3 linked regions of the Homo sapiens genome follow. The main gene of each other region encodes a partner of the protein of the gene in region 2 in a complex. Each region holds a gene or a part of one and is shown on either strand. Other genes may lie near its edges. A codon is read from its position in the direction of its gene.

Region 1 (7,689 bases), on a different chromosome or scaffold from region 2:
TCACTCTGAAAGTCAAGTCTGGGGCGTCCTGGTACCCTTTCACCCCATGCTGAGCTGCTGCCCTCAGGAAGCACTGTACATCACACGCCTGTTCTCTCCACTTCTCCTTTCCTTCCCTGGCTGGGAGAGGGACAACTGTCCCAGCGATGCCTAAATACAGGGAGTGGGATGTAGAAGGCTCGCCTGAGGGTGAACCCAGGGACTGCACCCATGCTTGCTTCCCTGGGGTATGCACCCTGGGGAGACCCTGGGGAGGCATGGTGCTCTGTCAAGGGAGCTAGAGTGGCCTGCAAGGGGCCTTGGCAGTGAGGGGCTCCAGCTGCGAGCCTGAAGGTGCGTGTCCTGGGGCGGCACTCACCCCCCGACTCCAGTCTTGGGCCAGACACCCCTGCCCACTCCCGGGATGCCAGTGGCTTGGCGGCAGCCTGAGTGGTGAGCTGGCACACCCCCATCTCCCCATCCCGAATGTGGCCTCCAGCACAGAGACAACTGGCCTAGGAAGGAAGAGCATGCAAACAGCTCCAGGCAGGATGGAAGTGGGGACCCCTGCATGAGCCCCCTTCACTTCCCCAAGCATGAGGATGCACTGGCTTCTTTAGGGAAGGAAGGTATGAGTGTGTTCAAAGGCACAGATGCAGGGCCCAGACGTCCCCCACAGGGTAATGGCTGCAGCCCCGGGGGGAATGGCTGCAGCCCCGGGAGAGGCTGGGGCAGGGCAGGGCCGGCCACAGTGCCTCTGCTCCAAACAGAATGACGATCTGTCCCAGACCCCTGGTGAATTCCTAATAAGCAAGTGAACTCGTGAGTTAAAAAGTGAAGCCCTAAAAACATGGGCCTCAGTTTGCTACAGTCAATCCTCCACCTCAGCTATCCAGGGAAGTCAGAACCATTCTCCTGCCTGACCTAAAAGCTCTTCTTTCCAGCACCACCGGGCCCCAGAGTCCACCTCTTCCCCTTCGTCAGAGCCCCAGAGGGCAGAGCTGCTCCCACATGGGCTCAGAGGGGACCCACCAGAAGCGGGGCCTGTGAGGTGGCAGCCACTCAGTCATTCTGGAATTAAACAAGTGTTTTCAACGGAACTGGAGCCTGAGATTGACCACATGGCAGAGCTAAGTGTAAATACTGCTGAGAAAATTAATATCATATGTATTTTATTACATTTACTCTTCATTAAGAGGAAGCCACCTACAAAAACATAAAGGACATTTATATTTGACCTAGTTTTAACAAGTATTTAAATATTCAAACAACCCCAGAGTGGGAGAACTTTGACTTCACTGGAGTCAAAATGTAAAAAGCAAAGGTCACCCCAAATGCCATCTGGATAGGGCAGGTTTCCCTGGAGTCTGACCACAGCAAGCAGAGTGCAGACTTCCATAGAGGCCGCGACCATGGTTCCTGACGGTTCCATCCCACTTCCCGCCAGTGTCTGGCACTGAGCCTCCACCCTCATCTGTAAAGGGAGGGTGGTCACCTCCAGGACCAGGCCAGTATCAGAGACAGCCTCTTTACAGAGCCTTCAGCTCTAGTCATCTTCCACTGGGATGTAACATAGAGGCCGACAGTGCACACCAAGGGCTTCGGAAAGGTTCTCTTTTTATGAACACTGGAGAATGCGACTACAGACCCTCCCGAGAAGGAATGGCCAGTGCACCTGAATGCAGGGTGCATACCCCAGGACTGAGACTGGAGGGAGGCACACCCCAGCATGGCAATGGGGGAGACTAAAGCCCACCCAAGGCTGGATAAGGAGGGGTGGGCGCGCATGGTGGGGGAGGCGCAATGCAGAGAAGTGGGCGCACACCGTGGGGCGTGATAGGGAGGGGTGGGCACACACTATAGGGGGCGTGATGGGGAGGGGTGGGCGCACATCGTGGAGGGGGTGATGGGGAGGGGTGGACGCACACTGGGGGTGTGATGGAAAGGGGGACGCGATGGATAGGGGTGGGCGCACACTGGGGGACGCGACGGGGAGGGGTGAGCACACACTGGGGGTGTGATGGAGAGGGCGACGCAATAGGGAGGGGTGGGCGCACACCAGGGACGCGATGATGGGGACGGGTGGGCGCACACCAGGTGGCATGATGGGGAGGAGTGGGTACACACCATGGGGGGCGTGATGGGGAGGCGTGGGCGTACACCGGGGGGCGCGATGGGGAGGGGTGGGCGCACACCGGGGGACGCGATGGAGGCGGTGGGTGCACACGGGGCGCGATGGGTGGGAGTAGGTGCACACTGAGGGCACGATTGGGGAGACACGAAGGAGAGGGGTGGGCGCACACTGGGGGACGCGATGGCCGGGACACGATGCGGAGAAGTGGGTGAATACCGGGGTCGCGATGGGCGCCCTGGAAGGACGGCAGTGCTGCTCACAGGGGCCAGGCCCCTCAGAGCGCGCCCCTTGGGGGTAACCCCAGACGCTTGTTCCCGAGCCGACTCCGTGCACTCGACACAGGATCCCGCACCCAGGGCGATGCCGGGGGAGAGGGCGACCCCAACCAGCAATGACTCAGGAGAGGAGCACGCAAAGACGCTTCGGGGACACTGCTGGGGCGGGATCCGAGGGCGCCGCGCTCTGCAGGAGCAGCAGCGCGGGGCCCGACACCGGGCGCTCAAGGAGGCGCTGGGCGCGCGCCTTCCCAGCTGGGGAGGAGACGGGCGTGGAGCGGAGGCGTGGCCAGGCCCGGAGGGGGCGGAGCTCGCGGCACAGCGCGCTTCGCGGGGGCAGAGGGGGCGCACCTTGGGCGGGCCCACTTAGGGGCGGGGCTCTAGAGGGCGGGGAGGGGCGGAGCCTGTCAGGGGCGGGACGCGGGGCGGAGTCGGGGTGGGGGCGGAGCCGGGCTGGGGGCGGGACGCCCGCGATAGACGCGCGTGCAGGCGGGGTCGCCGCGCTTACCTTGGGCTTCTCCTCGGACATGGCTGCGCGAGCGGCGCGGGGAGGCGGCGCGGGGGAAGCAGCGCGGAGCGGGCGAGTCACGCTCTCGGCCCCGCCGCTCTCCCGCCGCAACTGTGCGCGGGGCCGCGCTTTATCCCCCAAATCCCGGCGCACCCGTTGGCCGGCACGGGGGTCACGTGGCTGCGCGCGTTCACGAGGCGCGCTCCCCGGGGCGTCGGGCGCGCGCAGGCCGGGCCGCGGCTCTGGGCGGTTGGAGATGCGTCACGGGGCGGGTCCCGCGCGACCCCGTCGGGCGCGGAAGCCCTAGGGCGCTGTGGGGCGCGGGCCAGGAGCGTTTACGGGGAGCCCGGGCCCTGGGGACCCTTGCCCGCCTCCCCGCGTCGCCCGGGCCCCGACTCCTTTCCTGGGGGCCGCGTTCCTGGGGCGCCGGGAAGTGAGGCCGGGGCCGCCGCCCATGGCCGCAGGGACCTGGGGCGGAGGAGGGAGGACGCTGGGGGTGACGTTCCCTCTCAGGAGCCGCGGACAGAGCGGAGAAGGCGGCCCGCGGGGTCCCGTCCGCGGGGGCCGCGCGAATCGGGCCAGCACCCTAGACGATTGGGGGCGCCACCCGCCTCCCTGCCGCCGCGGTTTCCTGTCAGCCCCAGGCCGGGCTCCTTTGGCCAACGCTCCTACGGGGCTGCCCCGGGCCCTCCACACCCGTCCTCAAGAAGACCCGTTTTACCTGTGAAGAAACTGAGGCACTGGGAGGTCAAACCACCCCCAGGTCAGCGCTGGTGAGCGGCGCCGAGCTTGGCCAGGCCGCCACGTCGGCGAGCGCGGGCAAACCCAGGCTGGACGCCGCCAGTGCCGGCGGAACGGGGACCTCGTGGACGCGGGAAACGCGCTGGGCCGGCAGGACGGCCTCCCCGGACTTGCGGGCGCCATTCCTGGGGTGCCTGGCCCGCCCCGGCCTCCATGTCTGTGATCCCAGGGCCTCGGATGGAACGGACCTGAGGGCGGACACCCCTGCGTCCCTCAGGAGTGCCCGGGTGGTGCCAGCCGGGGCGTGGCGGAGGTCTCATCTGATGGTGAGCCCGGCCGAAGGCGGGGGAGGCCGCACTTCAGGCTCAGCTGGGAAATGGCAGGGCCTGGATTTGAACCTAAGCGTCTGAGCCGTTTCTGTCCTGCCTGGGAAAGGCTCAGCCAACTGAGCAACGTCGCAAAGCCATGGAGACAAGTCTTCATGGACCATAACTTCACAAACCGTCTTCTACTCAAAAATTCACTTTCTTGGCTAGAGCCCCCACTTAGGAGGGGGAAGGCTGCTGAAGTCTTTCGGGGAGAGGGTCTGAGAGTCAGCCCCAGTCCCAGGCAGGTCATAAGGTGTGGTCCCTTCCTTCTGGAACCTGGAGCCCAGGGCCTCAGCAGAGGATGTGGAGGTGGGTGGCCAGCTCAGACGGTCCTGGGAGGGGGCTCCGCAACCAGCCCCTTCCGAGGGGACGTGGCGCCTCAGAGCCCACAGATTGCTGGCCCTGGAAGTGCCCTAGGGCAGGCAGGGTTCAGAGAGTTATCGACTCCAAGACACCGTTAATCATAAAACAACACGACCGTAGGTAGCACAGACACACTAAACTCCGGCAGGCTGTGGATGACGGCAGCCCGCTTCAGTGTTGTGGAAGTGAGAAACACGCAGCTTAGAAATCATGAGACACAGAACCCAAATGTGTTACCGCTCGAAATTACGCCAGTTGCTGTGTCACGAAGTGATGCGTGACTACAGTCATGGATAAGGGAAAAAGAGGCTCAGATGACATTAGGTTTTAAAAAGCCAGGCTATAAGACAATGGTGGTCTGAATTCAATTCATGCTGTGTCTGTCTCCCACACTGTGACCTGCCCCGAATCCTTCATGTGACAGCAAAGATGCAAAAAGGCTCTGTCGCAGCTGTGGGGACACAAAGGACACCGCTGGTGGACCGAACGCCAAGAGGTTTCTGAAGGACACAGCCAAAGGGGATCGAATGGACGGAGGAACCAGAGCTCAGGAAAAACCGTGGCCTACCACGAGCACAGGGTAAAGAACCCAAATGGCCAGAGCCCCTCCGGAGGGTCGCCACACCTGGCGATGGTCCCAACAAGAAGACTCATGAGAAGGCAGGGAACTGGCAAATGAGTAACAGCATTGCTGACATGAAAGCTCGACCCACATGTGACTAGGAGAGGGGTCCTGGCTGAGGACGCAAAGAACTGCGAGACAAAGTCACAGGACTCTCCCATGATGGAGAAGTTAAGAGAGGAAAGGTCAGGGCTGGGCTGGGTGGCTCATGCCTGTAATCCCAGCACTTTGGGATGCTGAGGCTGGTGGATTACAAGGTCAGGAGTTCGAGACCAGCCTGGTCAACATGGTGAAACCCCGTCTCCACAAAAAAATTAGCCGGGCCTGGTGGCGCATGCCTGTAATCCCAGCTGCTTGGGAGGCTGAGGCAGGAGAATCGCTTAAACCCAGGAGGCAGAGGTTGCAGTGAGCTAAGATCGTGCCGCTGCACTCCAGCCTGGGCAACAGGGTGAGACTCCATTTCAAAAAAAAAGAAAAGAGAGAGGGAAGGTTGGAAGGCCGAGACACCGGGCATCAGTACAGGAAGGGCTACGTCCACCTGACAGGAGCTGCAGGAGAAGGTGGAAAAAAGGAAACCAGGACAAAATCAAAGACAGAATTGGAGAAAATATCTCTGAGGCCAGGCACGGTGGCTCACGCTTGTAATCCCAGCACTTTGGGAGGCTGAGGCAGGCGGATCACCTGAGGTCAGGAGTTTGAGACCAGCCTGAGCAACATGGTGAAACCCCATCTCTACTAAAAATACAAGAATTAGCTGAGTGTGGTTGTGTGTGCCTGTAATTCTGGCTCCTTGGAAGCCTGAGGCTGGAGAATCAGCTTGAACTCAGGAGGCAGAAGCTGCAGTGAGCCAAGGTCGCACCACTGCACTCCAGCCTGGGCAACAGGGCAAGACCCTATCTCAAAGAAAAAGTAAAAATAAGAAATTTCTCTGAACTAAAGAAATATTTGACTCCATAAATGGAAAGGGCCCCTGAGTATCCAATGGCTGAGTGAGAAGACTGACACAGATGCTTGGCATGTGAGGAGAAATCCCTGAGGCGTTCAGAGACGTTTCTACTTACAGTTAGGGAGGACTGGTTGCCTCAGACAAACCCAACAAAAATAGCCCAAAAATCAGTATAAAATATTCTTTAAATCTGTTTAAGGCTATCAGCTACCAAAAGAAGTCTTTCTGTGAGGGGCAAAGACCTTCCCCCACCTCAAAAAGAAAAGGGAAGAGTTTTTTTCCTTTGAGGCACTTGGTGATTAGTATCCTGTGTTAGCCTAGACTTCCATAAAAACATACAGACCGGGGGCCGGACGCGGTGGCTCACGCCGGTAATCCCAGCACTTTGAGAGGCTGAGCCAGGCAGATCACCTGAGGTCAGGAGTTTGAGACCAGCCTGAACAACATGGAGGAACCCCATCTCTACTAAAAATACAAAATCAGCCGGGCATGGTGGCGCATGCCTGTAATCCCAGCTACTCGGGAGGCTGAGGCAGGAGAATCGCTTGAACCTGGGAGGCGGAGGTTGTGGTGAGCCAAGATAGCACCATTGCACTGCAGCCTGGGCAACAAGAGTGAAACTCTGTCTCAAAAAAAAATAAATAAATAATACAGACTGGGCAGCTTAAACCATTGATAGTTATTTCCCAGCCTCCAGACAGTTCTAGAGACTGGAAGCCCAAAATCAGTGAGCCATCAGGGTTGGTGTCCGGTCAAGCCTCTCCTCCCAACTTGTATGCAGCCAACTTGGCGTGTTCTCACAATGGCCTTTCTGCTGTGTCTGCAGAGAGGGAGAGATCTCTGGTGTATCTTCCTCCTTTTGCAAAGACACCAGTCCTCTGGGATTAGGGCCCCACCCTTATCACCTCAGTTAACCTTAATCACCTCTTTAAAGGTTCTGTCTCCAAATGAAATCACATTGGAGGTCAGGGCTTCAACATGTGAATGCTGGGGGGACACAATTCAGTCTCACATATGCAGTGGAAAGAAGTTGACACACTGAGCAGAGCTTTTGCATCTCCTAGGGTTGGGGAGACAATAATTGGTGACAGCCCACAAGATAGGGAGACTCTGATGAGTGACCCAGACCTTCAGCTGAGAGCACTGAGGGCTGCAATAGGGGAGGAAGGCTGAGGGGTGAGTAGATCGTCCCTCTCAAAGTCTGAAACCAAGCTTCCAAAGGGCTGACTCCCAGACTAAGTTGATCTGCTCTCTTTCCCACAGCCAGCCCAAAGCAAAAGGAAATATGCAGAGGTAAATAGCATCATCCAGGGCCTCAAATTAACTAAAATATTTCCATATACAATATCCAGATTTAAAGTTTACAAAGAAAACCAGGAGACAAATGATCCAAAACCAAAAAATATATATATAAATAAAGTAGGAATAATTCCATGGGATTATCATGTCAACAGGATATTGACATTATCATACACTTTAAGGTAATGTGATTAATATGTTCAAGAAAATAGATTATGAGATGGAAATGTTCAGCAGAGAAGTGGGGTATATAAAAAACAATTTAATGGAAATTAAAAAAACAATAGCTGAAGTTATAAATTCAATGGATGGGTTTGAAACAGATTAGACACAGTGAAAGAGATGATTAATGAACTGAAAGATAGGTCAGAAGAAAATATTCAGGCTGGGTGCAGTGTAATCCCAGCACTTTGGGAGGCGGAGGTGGGTGGATCACCGGAGGTCAGGAGTTTAA
Region 2 (7,991 bases):
GAAGTGAAAATGATACCTATATTTATAAACCCAGCAAATTTGTGAACAGAGGGTAGTGACTGGCAACAGGACCGGTTTTCATAGCAGACTCATTTGTCAACAAATTAAATAAAACTTGTAGTAGAGGCAGCTACTATTTAAAGCAAACTATATTGACCAGAATTTGAAAGCCTAACTTTTTAGAGTCTATGTACAATTTGAAACAAATATGCCAGCATTATACTGAGAAAAACCCCAGATCCATTGTGCCACTATTTGACAGGAACAAAAGAACCAGTGAACCATATATTCCATACATTCCTATTGTTTTCAACTACCAACATTAATACTTCACCAGTTGGGAAAAATACTACTTATTAAAAGCTGCTAACAAATTATTATTTGTAAATGATCTAATTTACACCACATTTAACTTATTTTGTTATCTGAACAAAAATATAAACACTGTCCTAGTACAAATTACATATGTGGCAAGCTTGTTTTGAGTGCAGTCCTATGGTGCAGAACCACATTTAACAGAGTAAAAATTACAAGAGACCGGAGCTCAGTGTAAGCAAAAAATAATTAAGAGCATTTTAATTGTGGGTTCACAATGATAGGAAAATCAAATACAGGAGACCTTTAGGGCAGAGGAGAATTACCACTTAGCAGAAATGTTGTAAAATAATTCTAGGCATAAGTCTTTCCCAAATCCAAGAATCCATGATTCTATGACACCCATCTCCTGGGAATCGATGGCTCACAATTCACTTTAAAATCTAATTACGCTATTCTGGTTCGGCTATATAAACTTCACAAACCTTTCAAGCCAAGGAATAATTTCAAAAATAAAACTGCTTTTTAAAGAAAGTATCGGCGAATCTTAATTTCCTATTCCTGAAGAAATAACCATAAGACAGAAATTTCTCAACTGCAGCACTACAAATATCTTTGACCAAATAATTGTTTGTGAAGGCTGTTCTATGCACTGACGATGTTTAGCAGCGTCACTGACCTTTACCCTCTAGATCCAACAGCCAAAAGTTTCCTGACTTGCCAAATGTCCCCTGGTAAGCAAAATCACCCCTTCTGGTGAGAACTACTGATGCTAACTTTTTTCTTTCTTTTTAGGCACAGACAACTTATTACCTTTGGCTGGTTCTATTTATAATCTACTTACAAAAGAGAACTATGTAGGAGTCAAACTTACGCTTTTCAGGCTTTGTACCTGCAGATGTTGGTCCAGACACTTACTTGTAAAATTAGTTTCTTCTAAGAATTAAATGAGATAAAGCATGTAAAAAGTTTAGCACCTGACAAATTAAAGTTACTATTTGGTGCTAATTTTATACTTCATTCTGCGTAGAGAAGCAGTACACGTCGTATCATTCTGCGGTACTCTCAAATGGGAAACTAGTAGGCTATGTACCTTGAATAAACTGTTTTTGATGAAAATTTCCATCTACCTGAGGGAACCTAGAAAACTTTTTCAAATCAAACGGTTTTCTCTTTGTCTCTCTCAATTATAAAATATAAAGAGTCTCCAAATCTGCTCTCCTGATTCCATCACCCAACATTTCAGCGGGAAAAACCAGATAGGTTGGTGGTTGAAATCCCGAATATATAGAATCCCCCAAAAGAAAATTCATTTAATACCAGAGGTTTATTTGTCCATATGAGGGACATAAAAAAAATACCAGAGGTGGGCTCCCCAGTTCTTCTTCCAAATACAATTCACTTTGACTTACATACAAAATCCCGGGGGGGATTTTACAACTTAATTTGACCCTAAGTAACTGCTCTTCCTCCCTTCAAAAACAATCTGCTCCTCCTTCCCATATCTCACTTAAATGTGGGCGTCTCCATCCTTCCAAACACACAGACTAGAAAGTCTTGAGTTGTTCCCTATTCTTTATTTCCCTCTTCGCACAGTAAGTCACCAAATTCTGTGGACAGTTCTTTGGAAAGGTCTCAAATCTCTACCTCTTTCCCTTCCATATCACTGTCAAAATGATGCCTCTACAAGTCTGAGCCTGTCAATGCTTAGTTTAAAATTCTCTATTTACTCTAGCCTGATTACAGCAAACTCCGTCCAAACAGCCCAATATAACCTAAAGGTAGTATTATGACCTAAAGCTCATTGTACTGTGAAACCAACCTAGCTTTCCAGTTCTGTCTTCCTCAACTCTACTTCACCCCCAGCATCTTTCTTCTAACATCCCCTTTTCATACTTCTGTGAACCACTTATACTCCAGAAGCCTTAATGTGAATTATTAGCCCAGCATGAACCCAGTTAGATAGCACAATGAACGTGTCAAGGTGGCCCTGGGAATCGCAAAAAGTATTCAATTAAACTTAATTCACACTCCTGTGTGCAAAATGGAGAAACCCAGGGAAACAGCTGTTCGAAGAGGGGGCCTTAAACCCACCCATTTGAGCTCGCCCTCCGAGAGCGAGTAGGCTCGGCACGTGAACTGTCAAAAGCGAGGCCACAACCGACCTGGAAGCCGAGGAACAGGGTCAGCTTTCTGCACCCAGCCCTGTCAGGTACCAAACCCAACTGTCTTGAATCAGAGACGAACAGGACCAAAGGAGGTGAGTTTCAACACCCAAACTAAGAAGCCGAAGGAGGCGCAGGGTCCGTTAACCCTGCCCATCTCCACGCTCCTTGGAAAACGAAAACAAACTCTGGTTTCTCTTCAGCGTTCACCTCTCTGCGCCCAAACGGATCTGTAAGTCCAACTCTATACCTTAATCATCAACCTTTCCCACTTGAACCCCGTCCCAGCCCAGCCCATCCTTTCAGCGCGCCGACTACCCCATAGGTCATCCCAGCTCTGTCTCTTTTCCCAATTTCGAGAGCGGAAAGAAACCCCTCCCTCTTCTCCCTTACCTGCCGCGGGCACTCCCCTTCTTGGTACCGGGTCGATCGGAACTCCTGTTCCAGCTTGATCTCCACCCTAGTTGCAACGTTCAACCCACGTTCCCCTCGGACTGCTCCTCCCCCACTCGCGTCTCCACTAGGAAGGCGGCTTCCGGCTTGAGTCCGCGGCAAAAGAGTCCTCCTTCCTGCTGCACGCTGGGCCTGAAAGGACGGTGGCGTGGCGGGGAAGGTGAAGACGTGAGCACTTCCGGTCGCCCTCCGCAGAGGCGTGGCTGTCCGCCCTGTGGCCGCAGACGCAGTTGCGACTGCGGCGACGAGGAGGGGCGGGGCCGGTGGCTGCTGAGCCCGCCATGTGTGAGTGGCTGGGTTTGGGGAGGCGACGTTTCTGGAAGCTGCTGGAAAGCGCCCGAGTGGCGGAGGTGGCGCCAGCGGCCAGGGGGTGGGGCGTGATTAAAACTAGTGCGCGGCTTTCTGCGGAGGGATTACGCTGACGAAAGAGACCTGCTTGCGCGTCGCTGTTCCGTGGTCCGCGCGAGCGTGGTCGGGAGCCGCTGGTTCCTGGGGTGACCCGCGGAGGTGGGAGAGGGAAGGGCTTCCGAAGCCGGCGGGGGTGCCATGGACCCTCTCCGCCGGCGCGGCCTTCACAGCTGGGCCGCGCCGGGCATCCGTAGTCCGCTCTCCCAAAGCCTCGGTGGAGCTGAAGCTGCCACAGAGTGCATGTTCACAAAGGGTCATCACACACGGAGCTGCCCCTCCCTGTCTCCCTAGAGCCCATCTTCGAGGCCAGGGGCTTTTCTACCAGGATTCTGGGGTGTTTCTCCTCCTTTCCTCCCTCCCAGATCTTCTCACGGTAAGGGGAGCAGCGAAAGCGCAGGGACTTTGCATTCCACGACCCGTTCTGACTAGTCAACAGCCGATCTGTCCCTGCTGCTCTAATTCCAGCTGCCCTGCCTTGTTTTAACTTCAGAGAAAGGGGGAGTTCTCATTTGATAAGTTTAAGCCTTTGCTTTCGTAGGAAGGTCATGTGGCTTAAGGGACATCGTGACCGCGTATGCTATTTCTGCCTGTGCATTCTAAATCTTGGGGGCAGCATATTCCAGAAGTCCTTTTGGTCGATTGGTTCTGTGTCCTAGGATAACAATTTGTAGTTTCTGACCATTTCTTTACAGAAAAACCACAATTGGTATTTTGGACTGCGGGGTTTTTTAGTGGTCTCAAACTAAATGATTATATTCTGGAATAATGCTGACAATTTGGATAGGGTGGTGTGGAGGAAACAAGTCTCGTGTAGAAGAAATTATTTAGTAAAAAGGATTTTAGTTTTTGGTACTTCTGAATGCAAATGGCCAAGGAATCCAGCAGTTTGTTGGGGTTTCTCCAGACAAAAATAGGCTGGTTAGTTTGTTTACCTTTTTCTGTTGCTTTACTAGATTGTTAATGTATTTGTATATTTAAGATCTAGCTAGTTAGGTTTTTCTTTTTTATGAATTGTGATTAAAATTGGAGAAAGTAGTACTTCCTCCTGAAATAGACAAAACTCAGAGGGTTGTTTTCTTGTTCACCACTGCTACTTCCATTTTTAGAATGGAATACACTATTTGTAAAAAACAAACTTGCTGAGTATTAACTCATAAATTGAACAAAACAATTGGTTCAGTTAAAATGTAGCTAAAATTGTAAGACTGCAAAACAACATCACCAAACTGAATTGTATTTTTTAAAACGTTGTCTGCAAAGTTGAATTTTAGTCTTTCAGTGTAAATTTGGTATTTTTTCAGAAGAAAAATTAGTAACAGAAACAAAATGGAGGCGGGGCTTGAGTTGTAAAGAGAAAGGAAGGGATTTTAGTGTGTTCTGTGTTTTCGCTCTAGAGCTTTTTCCTCTTGTAAAAGGTAGTACAAGACTTATAAAGGGAAGAACTTTGGTACAGGAGATCAGCAGAGATTGACTAGAAAACCCCTTTCGTTTATATTATAGAGTAACGGTCCCAAGTTGAGAATACTGTATACATTTCTGGTTATTCCTATATATTTGAAATGCTTTTTTCTACATATCCTGGTCCCAGAGAGAGTGCAGTACCTTCCAGTGGGATTAAAGCTAATTGCGTCCATCGCTTGTCAGCAGTGTGGGACAGAAATTTTATTGACCTATTTCCAGTTATAAACTCACATGATTTAAAGGGAGGAAGCTTTTATTAAATTAATAACTAACGAACAGCTGCAGTAGTTCAGTGCTTCTGTATGATTAGGATTTTCTCTTTTTTTCTCTCATTTTAGCCACTCACGATGTCAGCTCGTGCACCTTCTACTAAGTTAGATTCCTTAACCACAATACAAGTCTTTGGCCCAAACCTGGGATATAAAAGCTACTTGCTATGATTTCTTTTTTAGTCTCATAAAAAAAAAATGAGAGTTGAAGTGACTGACTGCTTTCTAGAAGCACTCTATGAGTACAGTCTGTAATCCCACATCTCAATCTAACATTCAGAAAGCGGTGAAAACCAAAAACTTCTTAAGCTTGGCAACAAAATTCATTTGGTAGCAAAATATGACCTGAACTATTGAGAAGCTGTATATAGTCTTTATCCCATGTGTTTTGCTGAAACTATATTAATATGTTTGATTATGGGGTGCTGCCCTTGGCCCCTGGTATGTGTTATATAATGGTTTATATACCCTGTAACACTTAAAAATTGTATGAAATTCTTATTTCTAAAACACATCCAACCCTTGGGTTTTAGTTAAGGAATTGTAAACCTGTATTCATATTTTTGGCAACACGCTTGTGCTATGCATGTGTATATTTAAAAAAGTAACTTAAGACATTTTAGTTATTTCAGTAAATTCAGATGTGTTAGGATAGAAAAAAATACGTGTATCATATTGTGTGTCTGTCATATCATGCATCTATCATATTGTATACATGCAATGATAGAGGTATGCACAGCATATTTTTAAGTGTAGCCGTATAGTGATCCAAACAAGAAATTAGTAGTTTCAGGGCTTAAGGTTAATTTATACATTAGACTCTAAAATTTAGATAAAACATGACAACTCGGCCGGGCGTGGTGGCTCACACCTGTAATCCCAGCACTTTGGGAGGCTGAGGTGGGTGGATCACGAGGTCAGGAGTTCAAGACCAGCCTGGCCAAGATGGTGAAACCCCGTCTCTACTAAAAAAAAAAAAAAAAAATACAAAAATTAACCGGGCGCGGTGGGAGGCGCCTGTAAACCCAGCTACTCGGGAGGCTAAGGCAGGGAGAATTGCTTGAACCCCGGGGGTCAGAGATTGCAATGAGCTGAGATTACACCACTGCACTCCAGCCTGAGCGACAGAGCAAGACTCCATCTCAAAAAAACAAAAACAAAAACATGACAACTCGTAATGTAGCCCAAACTTACTTGGTTCTGTTTTGCCCCCAGAAAATGAGAAGATGGTGTGATAATAGTCTAAAGTTGATACTGGAATATCTGACATCTAATCCCATCTCTTCTGCTGTGTGACCTTACACAAGTCACTGAATTTTTAATAGTCTAAACTTGATATTGGAATATCTAGCATCTAATCCCATCTCTTCTGCTGTGTGACCTTATGCAAGTCACTGAATTTTTAAGGTCTCAGTTTACAGATCTATAAAATGAGAAGTTTGGAATAGATGGATCTCTTAAGGAGAGTTCCTTATAGTTTCAACATTCCATGTGCAGGTATTTGCTCTTAGAAGTACCACCTGCTTTAAAAAGTTTTTCCTACTAAGGGTGTAATCCCATTTCATCTCAAACTGCTGTCTTGCTGATCTAAACTTGTCATTTTGTTCATAGGTAACACATTCATTCACGTGGTTCAAAATTCAAAAGGTACAAAAGGATACTCAGTCATTTTCTGCCTAGGAAGCAACCAGTGCTACCAGTTTCTGGTATATTTTTCAGAAAAATTTTACACATGTAAGAACAAATAAATTACTATATATATTTTATTTTTCTTCCCTTTTTCTATGTAAATGGTACATACTATGCATAGTGATTATGTACCTTATTTGTTCACTTACCTTAAAAGTTGTTCTGTTATTATTTAAGGTATTTCCTTATTTTTATGGCTGCATAATCTTCCATTTTATAATGTACCATTATTTCATCTACCCTATCCTTTTGAACATTTAGGTGTTTTTTTTTTCCAGATCTTTATTAAAGAGCATTGTGCAATGAAGACCTTTCTACGTACATCATTCTCCACATATGTGAATATATTTGTGCCCTAGCCAATGGTACGGCTGGGTCCTGTCTACTTTGACTTATGTGTTCTCCATGCCAGTATTGTATAGTGGAGTCAACACCCTGTTGACTCTAAAGTAAGCATATGAGATAAATCACATCACCTGAATGGCTGTTTTTTCATGTGAGCCCTGAGAGCATGTATGTACATACATAATATGCATAAGTATGTATATATGAAGCAAGTAGATTATGTGTAGAGACTTTGTCCTAAACAAACAAACAAATAAATCTTTAAACACTAAAATCATGCCACTGAGCAAGATTTACAATGAGCAGCATATGAAAACAGCAATGAGTGATGTAACAACAGGTTTGTTCTTTCCAGCTCATGCTCATTCCAAGGCATGTACTCAATTAGTACTCTTAAGCTGATGTTTTTCTTTAAAATTTTTTGCCAATAATATATGGTTGAATTTATGTAGCATGCAACTTCTAGATATTCCCACTTTACCAGTAAGAAAACAATGTGTAAGGCTAGGCACAGTGGCTCACACCTCTAATCCCAGCACTTTGGGAGGCTGAGGCAAGCAGATCACTTGAGGTCAGGAGTTCGAGGGTGTGGTGGCACATGCCTGTAATCCCAGCTACTCAGGAGGATGAGGCATGAAAATGGCTTGATCCTGGGAGGTAGAGACTGCAGGGACCTGATATTGTGCCTCTGCACTCCAGCCTGGACCACAGAGACCATACTGTCAGAAAAACAAAACAGCAAAAACAAGGCCTAAAAGAAGTAACAATTTACTCAAATTTGCATTAACAAGGTGGCTGACCTGGTACTAAAACCTACATCCTCTCATTTCTAATCCAGGGCTTTTTCCAGTATATTCTCGTAATTGGACATGTAGCTCTAGCAGAT
Region 3 (6,851 bases), on a different chromosome or scaffold from region 2:
GGAAGTTTTTATCTTCACTGATCTTTCAAGTATAAACTCAAACTCAATTTCCCAACTTACATAGGTTTAAGCCTTATTCTATTTTGAGCCTATTTAGAACAATCTGAAGGGGCCAGGCACAGTGGCCCATGCTTGTAATCCCAGCACTCTGAGAGGCCAAGGTGGGCGGATCACTTGAGGTCAGGAGTTGAGGTCAGGTCTACTAAAAATACAAAATTAGCCGGGCGTGGTGGCGCACGCCTGAAATCCCAGGTACTCAGGAGGCTGAGGCATAAGAATAGCCTCAACTCAGGAGGCAGAGGTTGCAGTGAGCCAAGATTGCACCACTGCACTCCAGCCTGGGCAACAGAGCAAGACTCCATCAAAAACAAAAACAAAAATAAAACACAATTTACAAGGTAGATAAGTTCTAGCTTAAAAGAAATAGAGTGAGACTCCCAGCTTAAAAAAAAAAAAAAAAAAAAAAAAAAAAACGACTTCTTGGTTTGGCGCGGTGGCTCATGCTTGTAATCCCAGCACTTTGGAAGGCCGAGGCGGGCGGATCACCTGAGGTCAGGAGTTTGGAACCAGCCTAGCCAATACGGTGAAACCCCATCTCTACTAAAAATACAAAAAAAAAATTGGCCAGGCCTGGTAGTGGGCACCTGTAATCCCAGATACTCAGGAGACTGAGGCAGGAAAATCGCTTGAAGTGGAGGTTGCAGTGAGCTGAGCTCAGGCCACTGTACTTCAGCTTGGGCAACAAGAATGAAACTCCATCTCAAAAAAATAAAATAAAATAATAAAAGACTTATAAGTAATTTTACCAAGTTCACTCTTATTTTCTTATAAACATAAAATTACATTTCCTTGGTAAAAAAAAATTATTGTAAATATAATTTGATGGATTTCTGGCACAGGACTGGAACCACATATAATACTAACCAAATCATCCTAAGGGTTTTCACGAGCTATCAATATACCAAGTGCACGACAAAACTGACGTGCCAAGTGCATATTCATCCCATCAAAAAGTCACTGTAATGTGCTAGTCTAGTTTTTGTTCCCATGAAAATAAGATTTTTAAAAATAGTTTTATTCAGTGGAAGTACACATATGAATTCCTCACCTGTCGTTCACAATAGGCTTTCATTAGTTTACTAAGTGGTGTATGCCTCTTAATCTTAAACTGCACCACAGAACCATCCTGCCCCGCCACCTTCAAATTAATATGATCGTTGTTCTCAGTCTTGACTCCTTCCTGTTAAAAGAAAAATAAAAGTATAATTTGGGAAATGTGATCAACGAACACGTTTTATAAAGCAGCAGCAGCCCTAGTTGCTTCAAAAATCAACAGGTTTCTCATACTGTATGCTAAAACGGCATACTGCTGTTTTCAGCTGCTGAAATCAATGTGAAAGCGGAAAAATCCTGCAGTAACAGTATTAGATAGCTGTCAGATACGGAAAAGCCTACATGCAATACTATCAGTAGCAACAATATGTTTAAAGTTGGGTCCTATTCAGTGTATTGCAACGTTCTCTTGAAGTTAAACTTCCTAAAATGACATATATCACTCCCAAAATACTTTACCCCCCAAAAAAGTTAAAAATAGAGTCCCTTCTCTTTTCTAAGCACTTTAAGTACAACTGCAAGAAACAAAACAATAAATCTACAGCCTGCCATTCAAAACTCATTACCGTTGTCATTAAAAAGTTACCAAACTCAGTTTAATAACCTAAATCCAATCTCCATTAAAGGAAACACACAAACAAAAAAAACAATCGAAGAATATCCCGATTCCCCCCGGAACAGCGGTAATACTCAGTCAGGACCACAGTTAACGTTCTCCTCTATTAGCAGCTTCATTTTTATTTTCGGTTAAGAGCACTTATTCTCCCCTCCCCCCCTTTGTTGTCATGGGTCAAATACACAGTTTTATCCTGATTTGTTTCTTGTAGATTTCGACCCAACCTAAAGTTGTCCAAAATCGAGTGCAGAAGCAATTCTGTAGCCCTAAAACGCTCCAGAAAGTAAAGGCGCGGGAGGCGGGGGGTGCCACCAAACTAAAAGCAGCAAGTCCCGTGTGCCCCGATGATGGGTGTCCCCAAGTCCTCCCGGGAAGTCTCCGGGTGCCTCAAAAGCCGCGTTCAAAAGTTAAGCCGCACAAAGTCTCTCTGCTCGTACCTGTGCCTCCAACTTCATGAAACCACATGGTGTTCGCGGATTAGGGGTTCGTTGGCACCCAGGGAAAAGCCGCTGCCCCTCCCCCTTCGGGCCCCTGAGGCTATTAAAGTGGGAAATACTCCACGGGAATCCCCCTACCCCCAGGCCCAGGACGGCGGCCCGCGGGCATCCAGGTTCCTGCCCGTCCGCAGCCCATTGATTCGCCCCGAACCCTCGCCCCGCCGCCGCGGCCCCAGGCAGGGGTCCCCAGATGCCCGCGGTTCCTACCCGAGAGGTGAAGCCCGAGCCCAGAGGACTCCTCGCCGCCTCGGAGACTGCAACACCCGACGCGGGGTCGACAGAAGGTGGAGACCCCGCGCGCCCTAACGCCCCTCCTCACGCGCGCCGGCCGGCTGGGCCAAGAATCCCCGTTCGGGGCTGGTGGGTCCGCGGGCGTCCGCTTTCTGCCCGCCCAACTCGCGCCCGGCGCGCACTCGGAGGCCGCCGGGGGCGGGAGAGAGCGGCGGGGCCTCCTTCGGCGCGGGAGGGAGGAAGAGAGGGAGGGAGGAAAATGGCGCGGAGCGCCCGGGCCTGAGCCGCGGCCGGCCCCGTGGGGGGCCCGGGAAAGCGCTGGGAGCCAGCGGCGGGCTCTGGCCGGACCCCGGCCCGCGCCATGACCCCCACCGCGCGGCGAGGCGAAGGGGCCGGCGGCGAGCTCACCTTGGGCTTTTCGTCGGCCATGGCGAGCGCCGGAGTCTCCTCAGCTGCCGCTTCACAAAAGAGGTACCAGGTCCGCACCAAACGAGCACACAAGCAGCACCAGGAGCGGCAGAAGAAGGAGGCGGCAGCGGTGGACGAGGGGAGAGGGTGCGCGCACGTCGTGCGCTCCCTCCCCCCACCCTGCGTGCGCGAGCACGAGTAGCCGAAGCCTCCCATTGGCTGGCGCCTCGCGGGAGCGCGCAACGCTTACATAACCACCCCCACCCCCCGTCCCACGCCACCGCGTCCTGGGCCAGGCGCCCGCCCGGCCGGCGGGAAGAGGCGCGGACACGCGCACCCGGCCCGCCGCGGGGGCGCGCCTGGCTCTGGGCGGGGCTGTATTGTCCTCCTTCGTGGTGGAGCATAATCAAAATGGCTTCCAGCTGGTCCTCGGTGGGAACGATGAGGCTCGAGGCTTTAGACGTAAGCCATAGGCCAGGGAAGGCAGACTTACTAGAGGAGGAAGGGGATTCCTAAATCAAAGCCCCAGCATGAGGTTCTGGAAAAATCTCTCTCATTCAGTGGACCAGCAGCCCTCCCATGGTTACTTCCTCTCAGTCAATCTCAACCTGCTTCCCACCGGACTCTTGCCTAAAATGCAGTGTCTTCTTCTTCTTCTTCTTCTTCTTTTTTTTGAGACGGAGTCTCGCTCAGTCGCCCAGGCTGGAGTGCAGTGGCACGATCTCGGCTCACAGCAACCTCTGCCTCCCGGGTTCAAGTGATTCTCCTGCCTCAGCCTCCCGAGTAGCTGAGACTACAGGTACCCGCCACAACGCCCGGCTAATTTTTCGTAGAGACGGGGTTTCACCGTGTTAGCCAGGATGGTCTCGATCTCCTGACCTCGTGATCCGCCCGCCTCGGCCTCCCAAAGTGCTGGGATTACAGGCGTGAGCCACCGCGCCCGGCCTACAGTGTCTTCTTCTGTCCTGCTGGTAACCCTAGACTTTGACTAGCTACGGGAAAATATTCATGTATTCATTCAACGAGATCCTTACTCATCGCCTGTCTTCCAAGAGGAAACAGTATCCATAAGCGAGAACTACCCAACAATCAAGCTTCCAGCCAATTTAATCCTTTCCTCGTTGCATCCAGTTAAAACATACACATGCGTCCCTCCTGTCTGAAGAACAATCCGATGTGTGTGCACTGGATTCCATCTCGCTTCTTCCCCCGGGGCTTTATTATTTCCTTTTGTCCCTGAATTTTCTTCCTCTCCTCCGTTAGTATAGAAAAAAAAAAAAAAGCTCCCAATTCTATGAAGTTACCATCCTATCTCTCTCCATTCTTGGCCAAACAGCTCGAAAAAATGTCCCCGCCAGCTGTCTCCAACCCCTCCCCTCCCACTCACTCCTCAACCCACTGCAATCTGGTGCTGTCCCCAAAGTTCCACTAAAACTGCTCTCCACAAGGTCACCGCAGACTTCTTTGCTGAATCCAGTATGCTTCTCAGTTTGTCACTCCTCTTGAACTTTGCAGGAGGTAGGTTTTCCTCTCATCTCTAGCCTGTCCTTTGTTCTCTCTGCAATTTTTTTTCTTACTCACTCCTTCCCTTAACTGTTCCTTAGGGTTTTCTTCAAGATCCTTTTATCACTCCATTCCCTCTCCGAGGATGATTTCACCGATTTTCATTACCATCTCTTTGCTAATGATCCTCAAATCCATTATTTCTAGTCCACGTCTTTCTTCTGAGTTTCCAGTTGATTTCTGAACATCTCCACTTGGATATCCCAGAGGCACCTCAGACCCAGCAACTCTCAACTAAAACTCCTCACTTTACCTTCCACATGGGTCCTTCTTCCTGACCTGTCACTCTTAAACTGAGTGACACACCACTACAACAGCTGCCCCAAGCTGGAAAGGCCAGCAACATTCCTGACTTCTTCTCCTTCACACACTCCTCATCCAATCAATCTTGGCCAAATCTTGTCTATTCCACCTTCTTACCAAATCTAATTTCTTTGGCCTCTGGATGGAGCTGCATTTGCTGGCCTTCTGTAGGTTCTCTTTGGGGAGGAAGAGGCTTAAGACCTTAGATGTGTGATAGGCCAAAGCAGGAAGACCATCTAGTTCAGATCAACACTCTCAAAAGAGGCCGGGCATGGTGGCTCATGCCTGTAATCCCAGCACTTTGGGAGGCCGAGGTGGGAGGATCACCTGAGGTCAGGAGTTCGAGATCAGCCTGACCAACATGGAGAAACCCTGTCTCTACTGAAAATACAAAATTAGCTGGGTGTGGTGGCGCATGCCTGTAATCCCAGCTACTCGGGAGGCTGAGGCGGAAGAATCGCTTGAACCCGGGAGGAGGAGGTTGTGGTGAGCTGAGATCTCACCATTGCACTCCAGCCTGGGCAACAAGAGCGAAACTCCATTAAAAAAAAAAAAAAAAAAAAACACTCTCAAGAGATACTGCAATATCAGCCGGGCACGGTGGCTCATGCCTGTAATCCCAACACTTTGGGAGGCCGAGGCGGGCAAATCACCTGAGGTCAGGAGTTTGAGACCAGACTAGCCAACATGGTGAAACCCTCTGGTGGCTCACGCCTGTAATCCCAGCACTTTGGGAGGCCGAGGCGGATGGATTGCCTGAGGTCAGGAGTTTGAGACCAGCCTGGCTAACATGGTGAAACCCTCTGGTGGCTCACGCCTGTAATCCCAGCACTTTGGGAGGCCAAGGCAGATGGATTGCCTGAGGTCAGGAGTTTGAGACTAGCCTGGCTAACATGGTGAAACCCAGTGTCTCTACTAAAAATACAAAAATTAGCCAGGCATGGTGGCAGGCGCCTGTATTCCCAGCTACTCAGGGGGCTGAGGCAGGAGAATCGCTTGAACCCAGTAAGTAGAAGTTGCAGTGAGCCAAGATCACACCACTCACTGCACTCTAGCCTGGGCAACAGAGCAAGACTTCGTCTCAAAAAAAAAAACAAAAAAACAAAAAAACACAAAGATACTGCAATATGGAAATACCCTCCTAACTCATCTGTTTTTTTTTGTTGTTGTTGTTGTTTGTTTTGTTTTAGACGGAGTCTCGCTCTGTCGCCCAGGCTGGAGTGGCACGATCTCGGCTCACTGCAACTTCTGCCCCCCGGGTTCAAGCGATTCTTCTGCCTCAGCCTCCTGAGTAGCTGGAACTACAGGCACATGCCACCACGCCCGGCTAATTTTTTGTATTTCTAGTAGAGATGGGGTTTCACCGTGTTAGCCAGGATGGTCTTGATCTCCTGACCTCGTGATGTGCCCGTCTCGGCCCCCCAAAGTGCTGGGATTACAGGCGTGAGCCACCACGCCCGGCTGTTTATTTGTTTGTTTGTTTTTTTCAGACAGAATTTTGCTCTTGTGGCCCAGGCTGGAGTGCAATGGCAAGATCTCAGCTCACTGCAAACTCCGCCTGCCAGGTTCAAGCGATTCTCCTGCCTCAGCCTCCTGAGTAGCTGAGATTACAGGCATGCCATGCACCACCGTGCCTGGCTAATTTTGTATTTTTAATAGAGACGGGGTTTCTCCATGTTGGTCACACTGGTCTCGAACTCCCGACTTCAGGTGATCTGCCCACTTTGGCCTCCCAAAGTGCTGGGATTACAGACGTGAGCCACCGCGCCCAGCCTAACCCATCTGTTTTAAAGTACCTCCAGGCCGGGTGCGGTGGCTCACGCCTGTAATCCCAGCACTTTGGGAGGCCGAGGCGGGCAGATCACGAGGTCAGGAGATCGAGACCACCCTGGCTAACACAGTGAAACCCCATCTCTACTAAAAATACAAAAAATTAGCCGGACGTGGTGGCGGGTGCCTGTAGTCCCAGCTACTCAGGAGGTTGAGGCAGGAGAATGGCATGAACCTGGGAGGCGGAGCTTGCAGTGAGCCAAGATCACGCCACTGCACTCCAGTCTGGGCGACAGAGCGAGACTCCGTCTCAAAAAAAAATAAATAGTACCTCCATTATTCATGGATTT

Evidence for each region. The genes of interacting proteins can lie anywhere in the genome.
Region 1: the proteins of USPL1 (region 2) and SUMO3 are in contact, whole or in part, in a crystal structure (PDB 7ZJU), measured with the Homo sapiens proteins. Residues at the interface, in NP_005791.3 of Homo sapiens: Ala234, Cys236, Trp237, Pro321, Gln322, Leu323, Arg324, Met330, Glu331, Ser332, Val334, Phe335, Leu339, Tyr368, Thr378, Thr380, His393, Phe394, Gly395, Pro396, Asn398, Arg407, His421, Val423, Tyr451, Asn454, Asn455, His456, Phe457, His493; in NP_008867.2 of Homo sapiens: Gln24, Asp25, Gly26, Ser27, Val28, Arg58, Arg60, Gly63, Gln64, Pro65, Ile66, Asn67, Asp70, Leu75, Phe86, Gln87, Gln89, Thr90, Gly91.
Region 3: the proteins of USPL1 (region 2) and SUMO2 are in contact, whole or in part, in a crystal structure (PDB 7ZJV), measured with the Homo sapiens proteins. Residues at the interface, in NP_005791.3 of Homo sapiens: Ala234, Cys236, Trp237, Gln322, Leu323, Arg324, Met330, Glu331, Ser332, Val334, Phe335, Leu339, Thr378, Thr380, His393, Gly395, Pro396, Asn398, Arg407, His421, Phe422, Val423, Glu424, Tyr451, Asn454, Asn455, His456, Phe457, His493; in NP_008868.3 of Homo sapiens: Gln25 (codon at 1,189), Asp26 (codon at 1,186), Gly27 (codon at 1,183), Ser28 (codon at 1,180), Val29 (codon at 1,177), Arg59, Arg61, Gly64, Gln65, Pro66, Ile67, Asn68, Asp71, Gln75, Leu76, Phe87, Gln88, Gln90, Thr91, Gly92.

What each region holds. Positions count from the first base shown.
Region 1 is NC_000021.9:44,815,052-44,822,740, forward strand, and holds the start of SUMO3 (small ubiquitin-related modifier 3 isoform 1 precursor), read right to left. Parts: upstream 3,012-7,689; 5' UTR 2,918-3,011; coding exon 2,897-2,917; intron 1-2,896. UniProt on the Homo sapiens protein: Ubiquitin-like protein which can be covalently attached to target lysines either as a monomer or as a lysine-linked polymer. Does not seem to be involved in protein degradation and may function as an antagonist of ubiquitin in the degradation process.
Region 2 is NC_000013.11:30,612,939-30,620,929, reverse strand, and holds the start of USPL1 (SUMO-specific isopeptidase USPL1), read right to left. Parts: upstream 3,011-7,991; 5' UTR 2,874-3,010; exon of another isoform or gene 1,190-2,873; intron 1-1,189. UniProt on the Homo sapiens protein: SUMO-specific isopeptidase involved in protein desumoylation. Specifically binds SUMO proteins with a higher affinity for SUMO2 and SUMO3 which it cleaves more efficiently. Also able to process full-length SUMO proteins to their mature forms.
Region 3 is NC_000017.11:75,179,949-75,186,799, forward strand, and holds the start of SUMO2 (small ubiquitin-related modifier 2 isoform a precursor), read right to left. Parts: upstream 3,012-6,851; 5' UTR 2,887-3,011; coding exon 2,866-2,886; intron 1,241-2,865; coding exon 1,109-1,240; intron 1-1,108. UniProt on the Homo sapiens protein: Ubiquitin-like protein that can be covalently attached to proteins as a monomer or as a lysine-linked polymer.